Homo sapiens: one gene and its partner. The protein of the gene in region 1 interacts with the protein of each later gene in a pairwise test. Each region holds a gene or a part of one and is shown in the gene's direction. Other genes may lie near its edges.

Region 1 (3,821 bases):
TAGCATGTGTCTGGTGGTATTGTCAGCCAGTGGAAATGGAGGCCAGGTGGGTGAGCACCCTGGTTCCCTTGATCACCCTTCCTTGGTGCAGGATGTAACCAAAGTGGAATTGTCAAATAGTCCTCTTGTGGGTGGTGCCCAGTTCATCAAGCTGCACCATTCTACTCAGCAATGAGGAGTGACAGAGCTTGCAAGCCAATGTGAGCCTATCACAGGCTGTATAATGCCTGAAAGATGCCCTTTTGGAATAATTCCTTGACAGAAGTGACATTAACTACAAATATTACATTACCAGATCGTCACACTAAGCAGAAAGGAATAACCTGCATTGGAATAAGGATTTGGAATTAATTCAGTGAACACTGCAGCTTGATCATAGCTTCAGATATCTCTGCCTTATCATTAGCAGCATTCTTTATTCCCCCCGGGCTCTGACTCCAAACACAAGATGCACACTTGACTTCCTTTTCAGTGAGAGCTATTCAAACCCCAGCGGTTCTCCACTTATTACACATATTATTACTTTGCTCAGTGTGTCTCCCCATACCCAATGCCTTCGAATTGATGACCCGGTCAACTCTGTGGTCAGAAAGTTAATGTACCAGGTCAGGTTTCCCTTCTCTGTTCTCTCTTGCACCTCAGTTGTATCTCCTTGCTAGCCCTTGTCACAGGGCTGTTACACATTGCCCCATGTGTAACACGGAACAATGAGCTCTTTGAGTGTGAGGACTCTGCCTTGTATCAGCATGGCCAGCACCCCACATGATTGTAGCTTCTAGTGAACATTCAACACTCAGGGAAAGAATGAATTGGCTGCAGTTACCCATGAGACCCTCAGTTCCTTTGCTCTGCCTGAAACATAGACAGGATGGTGGACCTCCTCAGGCTCAAGCCTCATTTTCTGCAACAGAAAGTGCCCCCAAGTATACATTTGTTTTGGCGTTTAATAGGCATCTGTACAGTACAAATGTATTCCTTTTTAAAATCAGTGTCCTTCTCTCAGGTAGCTAACCTTCTCCGCATTGGCCTGAATCTCAGATTGCAGAGGAGCTGTGAGACTTTGGGAGGTGGGCAGCACAGAGCCAGGCTGAAAGCATCACAATCAGTGGTACCAGTGGGTCATTCACTGGACAGGGATGCCTGGGTGACCAGTGGGTTGTTGTCTTAGCTCAGTGTCCTTGGAATCAAAAACATCTGGACATGTGTCTGATCAAGGGTGAGATGAGCCCTAGGATTTTTCCAAATATTATTGGATTAAAGCATTTTTATTAATTTGCATAAATGAGATTCCTCAAGCAAACCCCCTAACAACCATTGTTAATTTGCTAAGCCCTGCTGCAATTGCCAGAACTCCTGGAGTGTGTAAGGAAAATGTGCATTGTGCAGTTTGCAGTGCATCAAATCCTGTGCTAAAGTTATGTGACTTTTATATCAATTTGGGGAGACTCATTTTTCCTCACTATAATTTACAGACCTCTTTTCATTGGCTGGGAATGCAATTTGCCAAATGGATTACATTTGGTACTTTATTTTCTCTTCATAGCTAGTTCTTCTGTAATTTATTTACAGTTCATCAGCCTCAATGGATGGGTTGTAAATCAGCAGGCAGCTCTCTCAGTTAAATGGTCAGGCTGCTGTGGAAGTGTGTAGGGGGGTGCAGTGGGGAGGGCCCTTTAACTCATTGTGTTCTGAGCTCTGTTTCTGTCTGCTGAGGTGGCTGTCCCTATTGAAGACATGCAGAGGATCCATCTGCGATTCATGTTTCGACATCGGTCATCTCTGGAATGTGAGTACCATACTGAATGGCATCTCTGCACCTCCCCCTAAGGGGAGAAGAATGGAAGAGCTGGGTGGCCCATGTATCATTTTCTTTCCTGACCCCACAATGCTATTTCCAGCTAAAGATAAAGGAGAAAAGAACTTTGCCATGTCCTATGTGAAGCTGATGAAAGAAGATGGGACTACTCTACACGATGGATTCCATGACTTAGTTGTCCTCAAGGTACCATGAGTTGGAAGGAGCTCTGCACTGAGGGGAGTGCAGGAAGAAAGGGGGTGATGGCAAAATTGCTTAGTGGTCAACAGCAGGGACCCCAGAATCACACACACCAGAGTTTACCAACTTTGTGGCCTCTTATAAACTCTTGACTTCTCTGGGCCTCTGTTTCCTCATCTTTGTGCCCTCAGTGAATATTTGTGAAAATTATGAGACAGTGGATGTAAACATAGCAATGATGAGTACATGGAAGAACTCAATACATGGAAAAGGTTATTGTTATTTACAGAAAGGTTATTGTTAATGACTGTTATATACTCTTGACTCTGTAGGGACCTCTGTGGCATGTGTAGAGGATGTACAATAAACATTTGAGAGATGCTGCATTGTAGCTAATGGGAAAATATTAAAACCTGCAGTCCTGATCCTGCTGCTGACTAAGCCTGGACTCATCTCACATATTTTCCTGAGTCTCAGTTTCTTTTTTCTTAAGCAGTTGTGGCAATATTTATGACAACCCACTAGGATGACCCATGAAAAATGGCCATCTAAACTATAAAGGGAGTGCAGATGTCCACTATTTTTATTTTTACATTATGAGACTTGGACTGTTTTTGAGACATGGAGGAGCATTTGTCTGGTTTTTACCTGCTGCTTTTCCACATGTCCTCTTATGACAACAGAATGCATCTACTAGCACCTGGCTGGAGGCAAGTGTATGGCTGTGAGGTGGAGCAAGGTTGAGTAGCCAGCACATGGATCACACCCTTGCCCTTGGCTTTCTTAGCCTTGTAGGCTGAAATTGCCCTTTTGCCTGTGGGATGCATGGCAAACACAGCCTCGTCAAGGCTTCATCTCATAGTACTCTTGTACTCTTCTCTGAGTCTCTCTGACTTTTCCAGAAAACCCCCTTTCTTCTGTACAGCCTCTGTTTTCTCATTTATCACACATAGAATTCTTGGCTTGAAAGCCCTTCTTCCCTGACAGAATGTGAACTCCTTGGGGTCAGAGGCCTAGTTGCAGTCAATTTTCTTTTACTTACCCCCATTAGGTCCCAGTTTCCTTGACTGAGGATAATAACAGTGTCTGCTTCATATGTTTGTTATGAGGCTTAAATGAAATGAACCAAGACATATAAAACACTTGGTTTCACTCCTGGTGCGGAGTAAGATAAATGTTATCTTCTGTAATGCCTACCTCTAGTCATTCATTTTAACATGCCACTCATTTATGTGTGTATCACTCTGCTATGTATTCTATATGCATTATTCCATATTATCTGCTCAGGTATTCTAGGAAGTAGGGATGATGATTGTCTTCAGTTTACTAATGAAAAAAAAAATGAGACACAAAGAGGCAAAATAGTGTATTCAAGATAGCATAGACCTGTGAATGGCAAAACAGGGTCCAGATCCCAGCACACTCTTACTTAGTGCCTTTGCCATTAAATTCCTCTTTAAGCTAGAGTCCTTATTTTGCTGGTGAGCAGATATTATGGTCTCAAAAAAAGGATGAATTAAAATGTACTGTCTGGGAATTTTCAATTCCGTTTTTATTTTGCCATTAATGAGGTTCACAGAGCTTTCACCTGGTGGATCAACCCCCTTTCTATTAATGTGTCTTTGAATTCTTACCTGTATTGTGGAAAAACAGTCCTGCCTCACCAGCCAATGTCTATTGCTTCTCTGATGATTTTCTTCACTCTTTATGACTCTCCCCACTTCACAGTGTCTAATTTGTCTGCTGCAGGCTCTGTGTGGCATTGGGCATGGAGCCTTGGCTTGGGGCAGTAACCAAGTGTTGTTTCCAGGGGGACAGCAAGAAG
Region 2 (3,821 bases), on another chromosome or scaffold:
AGGAAGGGCATGATTGTAAGGGGATTGAAGTCAGAGGCATCTACTGTGTCCCATTCTGCTCTCCTACAATATGGAAGTGAAGACAGGAGGCTGTAAGGGAGGCTGTGTGGCAGATGCAGGGGAGATGAGAAATGCCTAGGAGAAGAAAAATAAAAGTGAGAAAACATTAAGGTGTTCTGCAGGTGCAGCTAAGTCTTGAACATTTACTAAATTACTATATTGAAAAGAAGCTAACTCTTGAGTGTTTCAAAGTAATTTAACCCCTTTGGGTGTTTGGTGTGAGTGGGTGGGGCGGGTGGGGAAAGGGCTTTGAAGCCTTTGCTGAAGGATGTGGCTGGGGGTGAGGCAAGGAGCTCACCTGATCACACACTGTGCTTACTTCATCAGGTTGCCTAATGCTCAAGGGTTAAAGGTGATCATTCCTATGGAGGTAACATTTCCCTTCCAGATCTAAGACAGTGGATACAATTAAGGTTTGTAACTCAAGCTTGTAACCACTTTTTGGTGCCTGAAACCATCCAAGTAGATAGTTTGGTTTATAAGACATTCTGTTGAATCTGGAAAACGTGGTGGATTAAGAAACCCTCTCTGCATCACAAAGCCTGGAGTGTTTGCTACTAATTGTGCAACTTTAGTTCTGGTTCCTTCTAGTCAACCAGAGAAGTGCTTTTTAAGCTTACGGCTGTAACCCATGAGCGGATCATGATATCACTTTAGTAGGCCAAGACCAGCAGTTTAAAATGTGAAAGAGAAGAGTGGTGTGGAAAACAGCATTTCATAAAACAGACACCCAGTCTTAATGTCAAAGTATTGCTCAGTGTAGGTAACGATTTTAAAAAGCCTGTTTCAATAATTCTGGGGAAAACTACATTTTTAACCAACTTGCCAGGGATTCTGATGACGACGTTCTAGAGGGCTACAAGAAATACTTAGCTATCTCCTTTTAACAAAATACTGTTGGTTTAACCCCCTGCAGGAGATGCTATTTCCAAATGTTGAACCAGATGCAGTTCTGTCGGCTATTGACTTAACTTTTCAAAATGCTACTATTGGCCGGGCGCGGTGGCTCACGCCTCTAATCCCAGCACTTTGGGAGTCCGAGGCGGGTGGATTGCGAGGTCAGGAGATCCAGACCATCCTGGCTAAGGCGGTGAAACCCCGTCTCTATTGAAAATACAAAAAAAATTAGCCGGGCGTGGTAGTGGGTGCCTGTAGTCCCAGCTGCTCTGGAGGCTGAGGTAGGAGAATTGAGTGAACCCGGGAGGCAGAGCTTACAGTGAGCTGAGATTGCGCCACTGCACTCCAGCCTGGGCGACAGAGCAAGACTCCATCTCAAAAAAAAAAATGCCACTATTTGTAGAACTTGCCAGTGCGCTAGGCCCTCATGCTGCCATCTTGGAGGAACTAGAAACTCAAGTGACATGCTTTTCACTTTAGTGATGCAGAAAGGCAGTAGCTCCCTTTGCAATAACTCTTTAACCTTACTTAGAATAAAATCGACAGACTATCCCCTTTTCTCACCAAGTTTTAGTTTAGAACTTTTGAGGTCTTTGGAAATTTACTCTGCTCAACTTCTCCTTTCATATTTTACATCTAGTGTTCCCCACATGAATGATTCTAATTACAAAGACAGTTGTAATCTCTTCTGGAGGCAGCCACACTGCTGGGATGCATGATTAGGTGAAGCATTTTAGCTGACCTGGGCTTGGATTGGCTATCCAAAGAAGAAAGTCAAAGGCTGACAACTCAGCCTGGGCAACATAGCGAGACCACATCTCTCAAAAGTTAAAAAATTAGCTGGGTATGATGGCATGCACCTGTAGTCCCAGCTACTTGGTAGGCTGAGGCAAGAGAATGGCTTGAGTCCAGGAGTCTGAGGCTGCAGTGAGCTGTGATCTCACCACGGTGCTCCAGGTTGGGGGACAGAAAAAGACCCCATCTCTTTAAAAAAAGAGTCTGAGAACTTCTGCACTGTCCATAATAAAAGGATCATGAAGGCCAGTCATTCCACAGGGTGTGGCTCCCAGGACCATGTGTGTGGCCATGAAAGCCTTCCAGTATGCCAGCACAGCATTTTTAGGTTCAGCAAAGCCAGCCTGCATGTACAATGCACACACTGGTTGCAATGCTTATTTCCCTGGATAATTTGGGTTGTTTGAGTGTTAACAATTGGAACTTATCTATATTAGCCAGAACTAAAGCCTGCAAAGCCATATCATGATTCCTGATTACATTAACTACTTGTGTCTTAGTGCTGTATTTTCTAACCTGTTACAATATAAGTGCAGGTACGGTACGAGCAGAATTTGGTCATTGGCCTAAGGTGGGGTGAACAGTTAAGTATCAGATAGGAATACGTGTGGGAGAAGGAATGCTAGCTCATCAAACAGAATTAACTACAGTAACAAACTGGCATAGTGCTGAGTCGAGAAATTAGTCACATGTATAAATAGAAGGAGACGATTCTCAGTGTTCCGGGCCCCCACAAACACTGATTTCCAGAATCTGAACAGAATTATTATTGGAACTTCAATTTTAGGAATTGAGGCTACAGTTTTGACTGTTTTAGTTCTAACAGTTAAGGTAGAAAACAAAACTTTCCTCAGTAGAAAACACTGGAGAGGCACAACTTGCTGGACTAAGGACTGAGATGTGTTCAGTGGGTTGTACTCTGGATAGGGAATGGTGGTTTGAGGGAATGAAAATCAGGTAAGCCCTATAAAGCATTCTCTCAGTGGAGGTGGAGTCATAGGATCAATGCGACATTTTTCTCTGTGGCCTGACACACCCTTCCTCTGGGGATGCTGTTTTGGAAATGATGGAGAACAGTCAGAATAGTATTGTTATCCCATTTTACAGATGTGGCTTGGAGGAATGAAATGTCACAAGCATACTTAGAGAGTGCATCTGAGCCTTAAACCCAACTTTTCTGACTCGTTTTACTGCGTTGTTTCTTTCTCCTGCACCATGATGTCTGCACTGGTTAGTTCCTTCTTTTGTTGGTTCACTGGACTTGCCAGCCTCTGAGGCCAGGATGCCATGTGGAGCTATGCTGCAGTGGTGTCCAGAGAGGCTCTTCACTCCTGTATGTCCTGCAGATGGATGTGCCCTGGGTTGCCATGGTATCCAGGGATGTCAATGCTGCCACTGAGTCCTAGTTCTTCAGAGTCAATCCCTCTCTTTGGGTATCTCATTCTAAAGTTGACCTTAGTTTTGAGAGTCAATGGATTCTTCTCTCAGGGACAGTATGTCCATCAGCCAACCTCATGATATTGAAGCATATGAGCTAGAATGCAATTTATTAATAAAAAATGAGAACAGTATTTGCCAAGAAGAATGGGCGTTTATTCTTTAGCCAACATTTTTCCTCTGTGGATGAGTCATGGTGAAGGCAAAAGCATGGAACCACCTGGGAAGGAACCAGTTGGAAGGGGAATATACTTGACAGTGTTTTCCAGCTCCTCATAACTTTTGCTAATTCTCTTGTTGATAGATTCATACCAACTAAGAAAACCAGAGACTGGAGTCCTTTGACCGTGATGGTTTCTCCTTTGGGCGATGCTGAGGCTACTTGTACGGTTCTTTTTCTACTTGTAGGCTGTTGGCCATTTTACTGACCCATTATTTCAGGCAGTGTCAGCCTCAGTGCTATTGACATTTCGGGCTGGATAATCCTTTGTTGTAAGGGCTGTCCTGTGTACTGTCGAATGTTTACTGCCTTCCCTGGCCTCTGTTCACTAATGCCAGTACATTAGTCGTTTGTGACAACCCCAGATGTCTCCAGGTATTGCAGATTGTCCTATCAATTTTCCTGTCCCCAA

The links.
Region 2: the proteins of DOCK2 (region 1) and ELMO1 interact in a two-hybrid assay, tested with the Homo sapiens proteins (one study listed by BioGRID).

What each region holds. Positions count from the first base shown.
Region 1 is NC_000005.10:169,710,222-169,714,042, forward strand, and holds part of DOCK2 (dedicator of cytokinesis protein 2), read left to right. Parts: intron 1-1,713; coding exon 1,714-1,786; intron 1,787-1,898; coding exon 1,899-2,002; intron 2,003-3,806; coding exon 3,807-3,821. UniProt on the Homo sapiens protein: Involved in cytoskeletal rearrangements required for lymphocyte migration in response of chemokines. Activates RAC1 and RAC2, but not CDC42, by functioning as a guanine nucleotide exchange factor (GEF), which exchanges bound GDP for free GTP.
Region 2 is NC_000007.14:37,442,044-37,445,864, reverse strand, and holds part of ELMO1 (engulfment and cell motility protein 1), read left to right. Parts: intron 1-3,821. UniProt on the Homo sapiens protein: Involved in cytoskeletal rearrangements required for phagocytosis of apoptotic cells and cell motility. Acts in association with DOCK1 and CRK. Was initially proposed to be required in complex with DOCK1 to activate Rac Rho small GTPases.